Linked DNA regions of Homo sapiens: region 2 is linked to region 1. The links come from fine-mapping of genetic effects on gene expression. Tissue or cell type: whole blood. Region 1 holds a variant in brackets; the other region holds the start of a gene. All regions are shown on one strand. Distances are from middle to middle.

Evidence for each region. PIP is the estimated chance that this variant, and not a neighbour inherited with it, causes the effect.
Region 2: it holds the start of ITFG2, and the variant in region 1 is fine-mapped to the expression of ITFG2 in whole blood (TOPMed, PIP above 0.99). The same link has a PIP of 0.9 or more in T cells, blood mononuclear cells, lung and monocytes.

The regions. Positions count from the first base shown.
Region 1 is chr12:2,835,201-2,837,956 of GRCh38, reverse strand. It overlaps a transcript of ITFG2 not described here. Among named protein-coding and RNA genes, the nearest start is that of NRIP2, 1.5 kb to the right of the region's middle. RefSeq lists enhancers at 2,152-2,695, 2,696-2,756. The variant G/A (reference allele first, on the strand shown) is at 1,153.
Region 2 is chr12:2,811,355-2,813,982 of GRCh38, reverse strand. It overlaps ITFG2 (integrin alpha FG-GAP repeat containing 2), which reads right to left and starts at 1,315. Exons shown (of 12, transcript NM_018463.4): 1 at 1,127-1,315. The coding sequence starts at 1,222. It overlaps ITFG2-AS1 (ITFG2 antisense RNA 1), which reads left to right and starts at 1,059. Exons shown (of 4, transcript NR_146317.1): 1 at 1,059-1,421. RefSeq lists enhancers at 1,039-1,288, 1,019-1,768 and a silencer at 1,399-1,488.

The sequences.
Region 1 (2,756 bases):
CAGTATTCTCCTTTAGGCACAGCGTAAATTGAACAGACCTTGGGAGAGAGAACACAAGGACTGGACCACCTGCTCTGCTATATCATAACTGAATCTTGGGCATATTTTCTAAGAATTTTTTTCTTTTAGAGACAGTGTCTCGCTCTGTCACCCAGGTTGGAGTTCAGTGGTGCCATCATAGCTCACTGCAGCCTCGAATTTCTGGACTCAAGTGATCCTCCCACCTCAGCCTCCTGAGTAGTTGAGACTATAGGTACATGCCACCACACCTGGCTAATTTTTAATTTTGTTTTGTTTTTGTTTTTTGGGTTTTTTTTTTGAGACGGAGTTTCACTCTTGTTGCCCAGGCTGGAGTGCAATGGCACAATCTTGTCTCACTGCAACCTCCTCCTCCCGGCTTCAAGCAATTCTCCTGCCTCAGCCTCCCAAGTAGTTGGGATTACAGGCGTGTGCCACCATGCCCAGCTAATTTTTTTTTTGAGACGGAGTCTCTCTCTGTCGCCTAGGCTGGAGTGCAGTGGCGTGATCTCGGCTCACTGCAAGCTCCACCTCCCGGGTTCACGCCATTCTCCTGCCTCAGCCTCCTGAGTAGCTGGGACTACAGGCGCCTGCCACCGCGCCCGGCTAATTTTTTTGTATTTTTAGTAGAGACGGGGTTTCACTGTGTTAGCCAGGATGGTCTCGGTCTCCTGACCTCGTGATCCGCCTGCCTCGGCCTCCCAAAGTGCTGGGATTACAGGCGTGAGCCACCGCGCCCGGCCATGCCCAGCTAATTTTTTGCATTTTTAGTGGAGACAGCGTTTCACCATGTTGGCCAGGCTGGTCTCGAACTCCTGATCTCAGGTGATCCACCCGCCTCAGCCTCCCAAAGTGCTGGGATTACAGACGTGAACCACTGTGCTGGGTCCTAAGACTTAATGTACTAGTTTCCTGGGGATGCCATAACAAAGTATGTATCACAAGCTTGAGTGGCTAAAACAATAGAAATTTGTCATCTTACAGTTCTGGAAGCTGAAAGTACAACAGGAAGGTGTTGGCAGGGTTGGTTCCTTCTGACAGCTGTAAGGCAGGGTCTGTTCCACGCCTCTCCCCTGGCTTCTGGTGGTTTGCTGGTCCTCTTAGGTGTTCCTTGGCTTGCAGATGCATTATCCC[G/A]ACCTCAGCCTTCACGTGGCGTTCTCCCCATGTGCGTTTCTCTCTGCGTCCCACTTCCTCCTTTTAATAAGAGCGCAGTCATATGGGAGTAGGCTCATCCTAATGACCTCATCTTAACTTCACCATATCTGTAAAGGCCCTATCTCCAAATGAGGTCGCCTTCTGAGGTACTAGGGGTTAGGGGTACATTTGGGGGGTGAAGGAAACAATTCAACCCATAACACTTTCTTTCCCTCTAAATGGGGATTAGAATACAGTATTTCTTCATATAATTGCAGTGGTTGTGAAAGTGTCTCAAAGAGGCTTGGTTCCTAGAAGCTCAGCAGACATCTGGTTTGTCTGAAAGTACATGTGCCTTGGAGCTGTCTGAGTCAGACTGCACCCTTAGGGAGCAGGGCTCAGGTGGGGTAATCACCCTGTGAGCATCCAACACAGGTAAACAGGTGCTTGGCCAATGCGTTTCCCTGATGGTGAAGAGGAAAGGCTGGAGAGAAAAATCTGCTGATAAGCCAGGGCTAGAAAAAGTCTGATACCAAGTCCTGGAGAGGATGTGGAACCTCAGGAGCCCCTGTGTGCAGCTGTCTCAGTGTGCACTGGTAAAAACACTCTGGCAATATGCCAAAAAGGCAAAGCTGTATATGGGATGCCCCAGCAATTCCACTCCTAGGTGTAGGTGTATACTCTAGAGAAATGCCTACATAGGTGCCCCAGGAGATGTGTGCAAAAATATTCATAGCAGCATTGTTTGTTAGACCTAAAAATGAAAAATAACCTACATTTCCTCAATGTCATGCATGCATCTAATGGAATACTATGTTACACAGCAGGTGAAGTCAATTAACTAGAGCTGGGCATACCGTATGGATGAATCTCACTAACAAAAACTATTCAGCAAAAAAGAGCAGATTGCAGAAGAATAAATACAGTGAGTAGGACAAAACCAACGACATATTGCTTAGAATGCATATGTAAGTATTTGCATAAAGAATATAAAGAAGTCTGGGCCTGATAAACACCAATTTCAGCAGGCGGAAGTGGAAGTGCACAGGGAGCTTCAACAGCTTATTTTTTAAACTGGTGATGAGTGAAGAGTACTGGTTATCTTATTCTTTATAACTTCTGTATATTTGAAATGCAACATTTTTTAAAGAGCCAGGACTTGAGGAGAGTCATATAAAGGAGACTGAGATGCCAGGGACAATTTCTACTCGTGGGAAGATTCAGAGTTGTTCCTGTCATTCCCTGGAACCCAGAATCCAGAGTCAATTAGTTAAAGACTCTGACATCTGCTAGGCGGGAGGCAAGAGACCTAACAAGGTAAGGCTAGGGGGATGAGAGGAGGGAAGGACGCTCTCATGCTGCCCCTCTTTGATCTGAACCCAGTTACTGGCCTGCGCGCCAGCCCTGGGCTGCAGATAATGCCAGGAGAAAACAGCTGGGCAGTCCTGGGAAGCCTGGGAGGGATGCAGAGGAGGGCGGGGGCCACACACGCTGGGAGGTGCACTAAGGCTGCTGCCCCCACACAGTGACAAGCGCTTCCTCGCAAACCACCTGGCACGGGCACCCTGACAGTTTACAGCACTGTCTCTCACTCTCCTTCTCTC
Region 2 (2,628 bases), 24 kb after region 1:
AACAGAGTGAGACCCTGTCTCTATAAAAAACAAAAAAATTTTAAAAATTCCTCCTCTAATTTTCTCATAAAATTGGACTGCTTGGCAGTTCATGAAGAAACACGAAAGCCCAGAAAACATAACACAAATTTATGAGAATAACTCTTTCCTCCCCAGAGAGGGTAGAGCCAAAAAAGGCCTCATAAGATACCTTCTGCATCACAGCACTAGGGGGCGGTGGGAAATAAGTACAGGACAGTTAAGGAACTGTGAAGCAGGGAGGCCGAGTAGGAAGATAGGGCAGAGGGTAGAAGGGGGCAATACAGTGCTTTGCATTAGAACTATGAAATAGATGATAAATGAAAAGATAAAGTCTGCAAAAAAAAGAGCATCAGACACTATTCCCTTTAATGCTCCACCGGAGAATCCTCTCCATACTTTAGTCAATGCATCTCATTACATTTTATTATCCGGTGACTATTACACAGCTTGATTATGAGCTATCTGAGGACTGGAACTCTCTCGTTCATTTTTGAATTCCTAGAATGTAGCAGAGTCCTTGGTGCATAATGAGCAGTTCAGTAAAGATTTGCAGAAAAACAGAATAAAATACTAACACCACCACCACCACCACTAACACTTAAGTGAGCACTAAACTGTGTGCCAGGCATTGTTTTACCTGCTTGACCTGTGGTAATTTATTTAAAAAACGAGAAGGGCTGGGCACGATGGCTCAGGCCTGTAGTCCCAGCACTTTGGGCCAACATGGTGAAACCCCACCTCTACTAAAAACACAAAAATTAGTCGGGCGTGGTGGCGGGCGCCTGTAATCCCAGCCCCTTGGGAGGCTGAGGTAGGAGAATCGCTCGAGCCCGGGAGGCAGAGGTTGCGGTGAGCCGAAATCAAGCCACTGCACTCCAGCCTGGGTGACAGACGGAGCCTGTCTCAAAAAACAAACAAAACCTCCCAAGGAACAAAACCAACCACGAACACTGAAGCTATCAATAAAGTTTTTCTCTCTAGCGCTCCAAACTAGCCACAGCGCGCATGCTCACGCTCACGTGGCACGCTCGGGCGGCCTCTTCCACTTCCCTTGCCCCGTCCCTGCACAGATCCAGGCTGTCTCTTGCGGTGCGCATGCACCTACCGTATCGTTATCAACGTCTCCGAGGCAGATTGCGTGCGGGAAGAGGCTCCCGCTGAACTCCAGCGCCACGCGCTGCACGTAGCTAACTGACCTCATGGCACCTCCAAGAGCAGAGGGAGCGGAGAGGCCCAGTAAATATTCCCTGAACCCCCGTCGCGACAGCCGCCAGAGCGGAAGGCCACCTAAGGCAGCAAGTTACGTCACTGCCTGAACCTCCAATCTCTGCCTCTTCCTCCTTTAACCTTACAGAGGAGGCGGGTCTTCCGGGCTTGGAGGCGGGCTTCCCAACTCTGATGTGAGTGACAGGCCCACGGGCCACTCCTTTTCTCCACAGGGCTGCAGACCGTGGGTAAACCAACCCTGACGGGGGTCGATCTGTTCCCTTGGCAACAGGGCTCCCAAGGGCTTGACCTAATAACCTTGACCTTTTTCCTTTGTTTCCCTGGCAATGAAGATTCCTAGCCATCAGACCATTCCTGAGAATCTTACTAATCTTCGTAATAACTGATAATTGCATGGTTTTGAAAAGTGTTTTTAAAAAACTACCCATTAGGAGTGAAAACAATGTAGTGAGTTGCAATCAGCATATAAAAAATTAAATACAATAGTAATATACCAAGTGACTCCCAGGTAGTAAGGTAAGTACAGTTTTTGTGAAACTCTTGTTTCAATTGTATATACTTATATGTGTATACTGGCTTATAATGTAAAAAAAATTTTTTTTTTCAGTGTATGTGTTTTCTGGTCAATAGTTTAAAAGCCACCTGCTGCAAAGCACATTTCACATATTTCACATAATTAGTTCAGCCACTATGCGAGCTTTTTTTTTTTTTGGCTGAGGAAAACAGGTTCAGCAAGATTAAGTAAAATGGCAGAAGGAAGGATTGTGGGGCGGGGTGCGTGCTCAAACCAGAATTGTTTGATCCCAAACCCTAGGGCCTCTCCATCATTTACTATCATAGTTCGTAGGAGAGTCTTCAGGCTGGAAGTGAAGGTTGCCTGGATTCCGGATCTGCTCTGTCTTGTGGCCCCCCAGCACAAAGCTCTTGCATCTCAACCTCAGTAGCCTTACTCTTGTAGCACAGATGGGACTGTCACTCTCATGGCTGGCTTCTTGGGATACTTTCTTTCCATGTTGAATCCAGTTCTGCCTTTCTTTGGGGTGCCTCGTCAATCAGGGCAATATTTATGAAATCATACAGGTGTTCAATACATTTTTAGATTTAGGTCTAAAAACCCAGGCTGACTCGCACTTGGTGTTTCAAAAAAAAAAAAAAAATGATTCTACCTTATCTGGGATTTTGGACCAGGGGCTGTTCCTTTTTATCTTTTTTTTTTTTATTTTTATTTTTATTTTTTTTTGAGACAGAGTCTCGCTCTGTTGCCCAGGCTGTAGTGCAGTGGCGCAATCTCGGCTCACTGCAACCTCTGCCTCCCAGGTTCAAGCAGTTCTCCTGCCTCAGCCTCCCGAGTAGCTGAGACTACAGGCGAGCGCCACCACG